Linked DNA regions of Homo sapiens: regions 1 and 2 are each reported to be linked to region 3. The links are microRNA targets in miRTarBase. Many come from high-throughput screens and were not tested one by one. Region 3 holds a microRNA gene; each other region holds the end of a gene's coding sequence.
Evidence for each region. The annotated mature microRNA hsa-miR-378j reads ACUGGAUUUGGAGCCAGAA and lies in region 3 at 1,046-1,064, opposite strand. An mRNA with a match to its seed (bases 2 to 7 or 8) in the 3' UTR can be bound and repressed. Matches are read on the target gene's strand: a 7mer-m8 pairs with bases 2 to 8, a 7mer-A1 pairs with bases 2 to 7 and ends in A, and an 8mer does both.

Region 1 (3,000 bases), not on the chromosome of region 3:
CTGCTGAGTCTTGGTCCTGGTGTGGCTCCCGAGGGCGGGGTGGGGTGAATGGGCAGGGGCCATTTGAAGTCGAGGTATCTGAACATAGGGAGCCTTCTTTCCCCGTCACTAGATTGAAAGATAAAGGTTAATAGGCTCATTTTTTGATTGGAAGTTTACAGATCAAATAATAAATATGGAATACAAAGAGGCTTTATTTCCCTCGGCGCTAGGCTTCATTTGTGCCGATTAGATAACACCTGCTATCTGCCAGTCTGTCGGGGCAGATGTGTGGATCCCAGCTGACTTCTTCTGCACCCTGACCCTTAGCGCCCAGCGGGCATTTGAGCCTAGCAGATGTGGGAGAGTCAGGCAGGGGCTGCTTCCGAAGGAAAGGACAGGAAGGGCGGCTCAGGCGGTGCTGGGCTCAAAACACCCGCTTCCGTTCCTGTGGTGCAGCGCACATGCCATCCACGCCATGCCTGTCTGATCATTTTAAAAACCCAGCTTTGTCGTCTCGCTTCCTCTCTCCTCAACAGGAAGCAGCGAAGACGGAGAAAAGGACTAGGTGGCTGCCAACGCGCACGCTCGGGTCCGAGGCTGCTCCCCTGGAGCGGCGCCCCTGCGCCCTCAGCCCGAGCAGCGACATCCACTCGCCATTTGCTGACATGAGATTGGGAGGAAGAATCCAGAGGTGAAGAGGGAGACGGCTCTTAGCTGCGTTCAAGGCGGGGCCCTCGGGAGCCCAGGTGCAGAGCGAGGCCGTGTCCAGGAGCCGGCGTCCCTCAGTGCCCCGTGCACCCGCGGCCGCGGCCTCCCAGGCAGTGCTCATGCGCTGGCCGTCGGGGGAGGCAGGGGCACAGCCTCCATGTGCGCGCGCGTGTGGAGCTGTGTGCACCGCATGTGTGCTTTCCACAGGGGCGTCTCTGCGTCCACGCCTGCACATCCCGGCGCACGTGTGGGCACCACAGAGGACACGTGAGGGGAATGGTCACCAGTGAGCCATATTTATTATTTCTAGAGAAATCACGAACTGCTTTCTGTAATTGCACTGTGGATAAATGTTCCGAGAGTCTCCATTGTTGTACAGGATCTTCAGTTATTCGAGGGGAATGAGGCAGGTCAAGCCGATGCTAGCCACTAGTTTGATTTTTTTTCTGTTTTATAGTTTGCGCTGCATGGTACTTGTGAAGCTTAAATATTTTGAGTGTTCTACTGTGTCTAGGATTGTTGGGATTGTACATATGGTACTCTTTCATAAATGATAAATGATTCTGAATGTTAGTGTTTTATGTTCATATAGGAAATATTTTCATTGAGTCCAAAATACCACTGTTTTGTTGATGGACTTGAATGCATTTTTGTCTCTTCTTGATGAAGCGGCTTTGCCGCAGCAAATGAGGCTTCTCTCTGAGGAGCTGAGAGGTCTTGCAGCCTCTCCTTGTCATTCTCCCACCCCACATCCCATTTTTTAAAGCCCTTTTGGTAAAAACCAACAGGTTGTGGCCGCAGACCTCAGATGGACCCGGCCCATCCCTGGGGACGTGCTGGCGTGGCAGGTCCAGAGAGCTGCACCCTGCACGGGGCACCGCACCGCTTCCCTCCGCGCAGCTCTTCTGCCTGGTTTTCGGAGGCCAGGCTGCTGGGAAGCTTCCGTGTTCCTGTCAGTCCTTCCTTCAAGAAGCCGGGGAACTCAGGCAGACTCATCTCCGCAGAGCATACCAGCCGTGGGGGACCGTTCGACTTGATGATGTGTGCACACTTCAGGTGGTGGGGACTTGAGCTTTAAAAAAACCTCCACAGCCGAATCTTCTCCTCCGAGCCACTCCACGTCACGTCCAGCTGGGCCTGGCCAGTCTGTGGTTATCCATGTGGGATGAGATAACACCACATCCTGCAGCTGTGAAGGGGGATGGACAAGGGACGACGGCCGACGGCAGAGCATCAGCAGCCGACACATAGTTCGGGTCGGGGCCTTGGGTGGTCCTGCATGGCCCGGGACTCATCTCACGGACCCTCCGTTCTGCATTAAGCCCCAGGTTCTCTTCTGGCTTTGAAAGGGCCCGAGTGCTCCCAGTGTAGCTTCGTCACATCGTCACGAGCCCCTGTGGTCATGGGCGACCTCACACCTCCCTCCCTGAGTTCTGCTCTGACATAAGGAAGTCCTCGGTGGCTGGTGCAGCGCGGCTGTGCTGTGCTGGGGAGGCAGCCGTTCCTTCGGGGGTCCTTGGGCCTGCAGTCCCCTCATACTCACCCTTCACCCAACATATTTTCCGGTGCTGATATGTTTCCAGACTCCAGCGCAACCTGGGGTGCTCTCCAGACCCGTGCAGGGGCCGCCTGGGGTACACGGAAGGAAGTTGAGTCCTAGTGCAAAATGCAGGCGGACGTTGCCAGAGAGTGCGCAGCAAATGACCTTCATTGCCAGTTCCACCCTACTCCTCTCATTTTTTATACTAAGCAATAACTTTCCAAAGCAAGAAGTTCAGGATGGAGAGAGTCCCCTCCTGTGTAGGCATGGGGTGGATGCGGTGCCCACCTGGGCTATGTGGGGAGCACCACTGTCTCGGGATGCGCGAATTTTTTTTTTTTTTTTAATTAACAGGGCATTAGAAGATGATTTTGCCAAAATTGTCATGACTCTGAATTCTTGCTGTGGGGACTTCCTGAGTTTTCTCAGTTTTTACATCTAAGATTAGTCTTGGCTGAAGAGAAATGAGACGTGATTATACTACTTTTTCAATTGCAGGTTTAAGGAGTTCAGATTTAATGACCAAAGTCATACAGATCATGGAATCTGTCGTCGTCTTATACAGTGTCAGCCTCGAGTACATTTATTAACCTTTTGGGGCTGTCAGTTTTCCACTAGGATTAAGATTTTGGCCGGGCGCGGTGGCTCACGCCTGCAATCCCAACACATTGGGGGGTCGAGGCGGACGGATCACTTTGAGCCCAGGAGTTCAAGACCAGCCTGGGCAACATGGCGAAACCTCGTCTCTACTAAAAATACAAAATATATAT
Region 2 (3,000 bases), not on the chromosome of region 3:
GAATGGCATCAGAAATCTCAACCAGCACGCTTGGGAGGGGCTAGGGGAGGGTATTATTTTCCACCTGTCATTCTATGCTCAGCCACATTTCTGTTAAGGGCAGAATACAGACATCTTAAGTCATGCAAAAATCTCAAAATATTTACAACCATATTTACTTCCCATGTTCTCTTCCTCAGGAAGTTATTAAAGAATGTGCCACACCAAAAAAAAAAAAAAAGTAAAGAGAGAGAATAGCAAATTAATGGGGACATTTGGAGGAGAAAGGACATGTAACCATAACACACTGCTGGGCTTGGGAGTCAACAATCCTTAAGTGCTCCAGGTAATGTCAACACCTAATAGAAATGTACTAAATGATGTGATCTAGCTATACTGGAAAACCAAAGCACGGTATGGTAAGAGTGAAATCCTCCTCTACTGTGACAGCAAGCCAGTAGATGTTTCTAAATTAAAAAATAAAGTGTAAGCACGTTATGTAGAAATGCAAACATAAGAGAGTTGAAAGTGGTTACTTCTAAGCAGCGAGACTTAGGGGACTGCTAGTTCTTGTTAAAAGCCTTATTGTATTTCTTTTAATTTAAAAAAAATTTACAAGCAATGGGGTGGTTTGTCCTGCAGACTTCCACATCCATTTTCTATATCCAGCTTCTTCCATAGAAGCCTATACTCAAATGAGATTTTTTTTTCCTTTGCAAAATATCAGTTGACTGCCAACCTGAACCAAATGACTTTCAGGCATCTTGCCAGTAGATGTTTTAAACAATATTACAAGTTGTAATAGGTGAGAGAAGTATCTTGCAGAGGTTTTTCTGAACAAGGTCTAGACCCATAAAATGAAATGATTCACATTTGGGTTGGCTCTTCCCAGGCTCTTCGAGCATCTAATTTAGGCAAGGACTGCATGGTGCCCAGAGTTATAAACTATCACATAATCTTTATTATCTGTACCTTTGAGCTTTCATTGATGCCAGGGAGCTCATTAATTAGCTCATTTTCCATGGGGCTCTTGGCCTTCCAGATGGAATCACTCCAAGCTCCCAGCAGCTTTCTGGTTGGAAGGCTGAAATTCTTTCAGGAGGGGAGACAGACTATAATCAGACTGGTTTAGAGGCCAGATTTTGGCTGTCATCGACTCAGATGTGCTATGTAAATTCTTCTGGCCATGCTGGAATTCTGTAAACTTGAAACCCACTGCTTGAAATGAGCAAGTCCTTGGCTAGCAAAGAAAGAAACGTGATTCCTGGAGTAAGAGCGACGCTGGTATGTCAAATGACAAGCTGTTGCAGCTGTCAAGGGTATTTCAGAAGGAATTGGGGATGAGCTTGAAGGTGAGTAAGAATTCCTCATGGGAAAAATACAAGAACAAAACAAATGTCGATAGTTGGTCTAAACTTTTTGGTTTTGCTTGAATGTGGACATTTTAATCTAGTCATTTTATCTTTTTCTCAGGACATTGGTGTGCCCAGTGGAAGTTTCCTACAAGGGGTGACAGCTCTGGACAGGGCATCAGGTGCCTGTGTGCTCACTGCAAGTCTGCCCCTGGTCGGCTATATGATCTTGGTCAAGCTGCTCTGTCTCTCTGGGTCCAGCTAGACAAGATGCTCACTGAGTCCCCTCCTGACTCATTTGTGATTTTATAAGGGTTGCCTGGTACATGCTTTCTGAAGGGGAGAGCAAGGGGAGGAGGAACCAATGCAGAGACTCACCACGGACCTGAGTCTTGGCAGGGAGGAGAGAGCAGAGGGAGCCTGGGGCTGAGGAAGACTGGGGGCAGGGGTGCTAGAGATGCCTCTCTTCTTTCACAAACCTCCTGTGCTGGCCTGCTCCCGGAGTGCTGTCCAGAAAGCCTCTTCAAGAAACCCATTACAAGTGACCACAAAGAATGCCCGTTCCAAGACATGCATTCTGAGGGAGGTGTGCACCAAAGCTTTAGTGGGCAGGAAGCTACCCCACCACCCAGCTCCAGCACTGCTGGGAGCTGATTCCAGCCCAGCCACTCCTCATGGCTTTTATATGGCCCTGCTGGGCCCTGGCGATCTGGTTTGAAAATCATGGTTCTATCTCAATCCAATCAATGGAAAACTGAATTTCAAGTGTTATCTCCCCTCAAACAAAAAACAAAACAAAAAAACAACAAAAAAAACAGGGTGAAAAAGAGCACACAGTGGCTCTCAACACAGCTTTCACCTTCCTCCCTGGATTCTGCCATTCCTGGATGTGCTTACACAGAGCTGGCTGCTCGGATTTCCCCTAGTGAATGCAACCAGTTACCGGACTGCGACAGGTGCATGGACCCCAGCACCTTCTCTCAAACACCCACGCTTGGAGGAAAACGTGGCAGCTCTCTCCCCAGCTGGGGCTTGGCCTGGGGTGCCCACCCTCTTTCTCATTAAGCAGCCCTTCATCTGAGAGGTAAGAAACTCAAGTTCATCCAGCGTGTGAACCTGCAATGTGGGGTGTGCTAAGATCCAGGCGGGCTAATGATCACTAACAATGCTCCCTATCCAACCCAGCAAGGCACACAAGGACAAAACCCCACCTACGGATCCAGCTGCATGCCTGAGTTTTGAGTACACAGCCAAAGAAAAAAGCATGCTCAGGTTGTCCAGAAAAAAAAGGAAACCTGAAAAAAAAAAAAAAACCACAATAGCGAGAAAGGGGGTCTAAGTTTCCTCGGAGGTCCTCAACTGTCTGTAGAAGTGCCCCACCCAGAACCCAAAATAAAATGAAGTAACCCCGCCCCTGGTCAGGGTCCTGTCTTTTTTATTATCCAGACACACGTATCAGAGCCTGCTAACATCCAGTTGTGGGAAGAGCAGCAAGCAGTACACCAGGAGCCACAGGAAGAGAATAAAATACATCATATCCGGCTGCTGGACAAGCTGTGTCAGGGAGTCACTCTGCGGGCTGTGGCTCCCCAGTGACATGGCTTCTCCTGAGCTGTTGGCCTTCCTACAGAAGAAACACAGAGGAAACGCAGTTACCAAGCAGGTTCCC
Region 3 (3,000 bases):
ATAATCATTTAAAAGTCACCTACAGAGCTGGGTGCAGCAGCTTGTGCCTGTAATCTCAGTTACTCAGGAGGCTAAGGCAGGAGGATTGTGTGAGGTCAGGAGTTCAAGACCAGCCTGGACAACATGGCAAGACCCTCATCTCTACAGGAAAAAAAAAAGGCACCTACAAATTGAAACTGACTTGATAGTTTAGGATCATTTATCACCAGTCCCATGTACTTGTAGTTGATTTCAAATGTTTGGTACAGGTGACTGTAAGACTTCAAGTATTCCATGAAAATAACATTCATGCTGGGATCATAAAATTACATTTCTGGGACAGTATTTTTAAAGTCTGTTTTTAACTTTTGTCTTCAAGAGCTACTTTCTTCTTGCTGTTCTGACCAGTGACCTTTTTCCTGTAAAGAGCAAAGTAAGAAAAATTGAATAAAAAATTCTACGTATATTTACTTTCCATAACCCTACCACCAGTTTAATAAACATTTACTGAAACCTACTGTGTATCAAATAATGAGGCACTAGGAACACAAAGATGCATTAGACATGGTCTCTGCCCTTTAGAAAATCACAATCACCTAAGTGAGGCAGAACCATCACAGTAAACTACATTACTACATGGTATGACACATAGGTTCGGATCCTGACCTAATGAGTTCACAATGATTCAGTGCTTACTGCATGCTAGAAACGGTTACTAAGTGCTTTACATGTATTAACTCGGGTAATTTTCCTAACAACTTATGAGGAGTATTGTATTATTATCCTCCGTTTACAGATGAGGAAAATGAGGCACAGAGTGGTTGACTTGCCAGTCATCACTCACTGGTAATCCATGTTAGACACGAATCCTATCAGTCTGATCCTATAGCCTAGTGAAGGTTGAATGTCATTAACTAAGTGGTAACAGACAAAGGAAAAAAGTTTTGAGAAAATAATCAATGTTTGCAAACTATTATTATAGTAATACAAAGTTCTTTGGTGTATATTAACTCATATAATCCCAAATCCCAACTCTACACAGGGAAGTAGATATTAGAACCAGTTCTTCTGGCTCCAAATCCAGTTCCTCCCCGACTCACTGCATGGGGCTGAGTTTGTGATGCCTGAAGTGAGGTCCACTAGGCAGCAAGGATTCAGGTTTGTAGCTCAATGGGGAAGTTGGGGCTGAAGATAACAACCTTAAGAGCGATCAGCACAGAAATATGAGCTGAGCCTATAGGCATGGGTGGGATCATTAAGGAAACATCTATAGCATAGAGGTAAGCCAGAGTTGGATCATGATGGGTCTTGCTTGTATGCTATGTTAAGTAGTATGGCCTTTACATATGAAGAAAATGGAGACACAACCAAAGCACCTTAAGCAGGGGGCTGATATGACAAGATTTATATCAAGTGTCTTCGAAGTCTTAGTACAAATTAAGTTTTAATAACCTCAGAAGAAGGCAGGTGCAGTGGCTCATGCCTGTAATCCCACCATGTTGGGAGGCAGAGGTAGGCAGATCGCTTGAGTCCAGGAGTTTGAGACCAGCCTGGGCAATATGGCAAAACCCCATCTCTACTAAAAATAAAACAATATTAGCCAGGCACGGTGGCATAAGCCTGTAGTCCTAGCTTCTCAGGGGGCTGAGATGGGAGGACTGCTTGAGCCCAGGAGGTCGAGGCTGCAGTGAGCCCTGATTGTGCCACTGCACTCCAGTCTGGGTGACAGATTGAGACCCTGTCTCAAAAAACAAACAAAAAACCCCAGAAGTATAAATGCTATAAACTTATAAAAATCAGCATTTAGACTGGGCGCGGTGGGTCATGCCTTAGCACTTTGGGAGGCCGAGGCGGGCGGATCACAAGGCCAGGAGATCAAGACCACCCTGGCCAACATGGTGAAACCCCGTCTCTACTAAAAATACAAAAATTAGCTGGGCATGGTGGTGTGTGCCTGTAATCCCAGCTACTCAAGAGGCTGAGGCAGGAGAATCACTTGAACCCGGGAGGTGAAGGTTGCAGTGAGCCGAGATCGTGCCACTGCACTCCCGCCTAGCAACAGAGATTCCATCTCAAAACAAAAACAAATCAGCATTTAAAGTATAATTATTTAAAATACTGATGTATCTTATTAAAATTCAACATAGCCACCATCTTATGTTCTAGTTGATTTTTGACCTTTGTAAAAACTTTCATCAGTTGCTGCTCAGTGCCTGAAAGGACTGCATTTGTTATCTTGGCTTTAAGACCATCCAAAGAGTAACACATACACAACAGTTCTGATGTGACCCACTCCTCTCCTACCAACAAGTCTATTAAGACAGATTAGGTGACCAAAGTGGCCAAGCATAACAAGGTTCGCTACCAATCCACTGGTCTAAGTGTCACCCAGAAACTGTTGCGACAGAAAATTAAAATTTAAAAATGTTGGCCAGGTGCAGTGGCTCACACTTGTAATCCCAGCACTTTGGGAGGCCGAGGTGGGAGATCACATGAGGCCAGGAGTTTGAGAGTTCGAGACCATCTTGGCCAACATGGTGAAACCCCATCTCTAGTAAAAATACAAAAAAATTAGCCAGGCATGGTGGCGGGTGCCTGTAATCCCAGCTACCCAGGAGGCTGAGGCACGAGAATCACTTGAACCTGGGAGGTGGAGGTTGCAGTGAGCCGAGATTGCGACACTGCACTCCAGCCTGGGCGACAGGGTGGCAGAGCAAGACTCCATCTCAAAAAAAAAAAAAGTAAATGTGATTGTGAAGCATTCCCAAAACTGAATAAGTACAAATGGAATTTGTACTTATTGATTGATTGACTATTCAAATATACTTTTTTCAGTTTGTAGCACTTATCCTTCCCAAGTTATTAAAAGTATGATAAAATTTTGAGACACTATATATACACTGTATATTTGAACCGACTTTTATTCCTCATAGACAATACCAACATGTGAAAACTCTTGTTCACTTATTTACAAAGCACACTCTAATTTTCATGCCTCTATTCATCTTGTTCCCTTCTCCA

Region 1: miRTarBase lists LMTK2 as a target of hsa-miR-378j. Seed matches in the 3' UTR shown: 8mer at 665-672.
Region 2: the mRNA of CLMN is a reported target of hsa-miR-378j. Seed matches in the 3' UTR shown: 7mer-m8 at 2,199-2,205.

Annotation. Positions count from the first base shown.
Region 1 is chr7:98,204,946-98,207,945 of GRCh38, forward strand. LMTK2 (lemur tyrosine kinase 2) reads left to right here. Exons shown (of 14, transcript NM_014916.4): 14 at 519-3,000. The coding sequence ends at 547. Among named protein-coding and RNA genes, the nearest start is that of BHLHA15, 5.0 kb to the right of the region's middle.
Region 2 is chr14:95,188,778-95,191,777 of GRCh38, forward strand. CLMN (calmin) reads right to left here. Exons shown (of 13, transcript NM_024734.4): 13 at 1-2,955. The coding sequence ends at 2,787. Among named protein-coding and RNA genes, the nearest start is that of DICER1-AS1, 33 kb to the left of the region's middle.
Region 3 is chr17:37,613,956-37,616,955 of GRCh38, forward strand. MIR378J (microRNA 378j) reads right to left here and starts at 1,084; the gene lies at 976-1,084. DDX52 (DExD-box helicase 52) reads right to left here. Exons shown (of 15, transcript NM_007010.5): 15 at 1-398. The coding sequence ends at 341.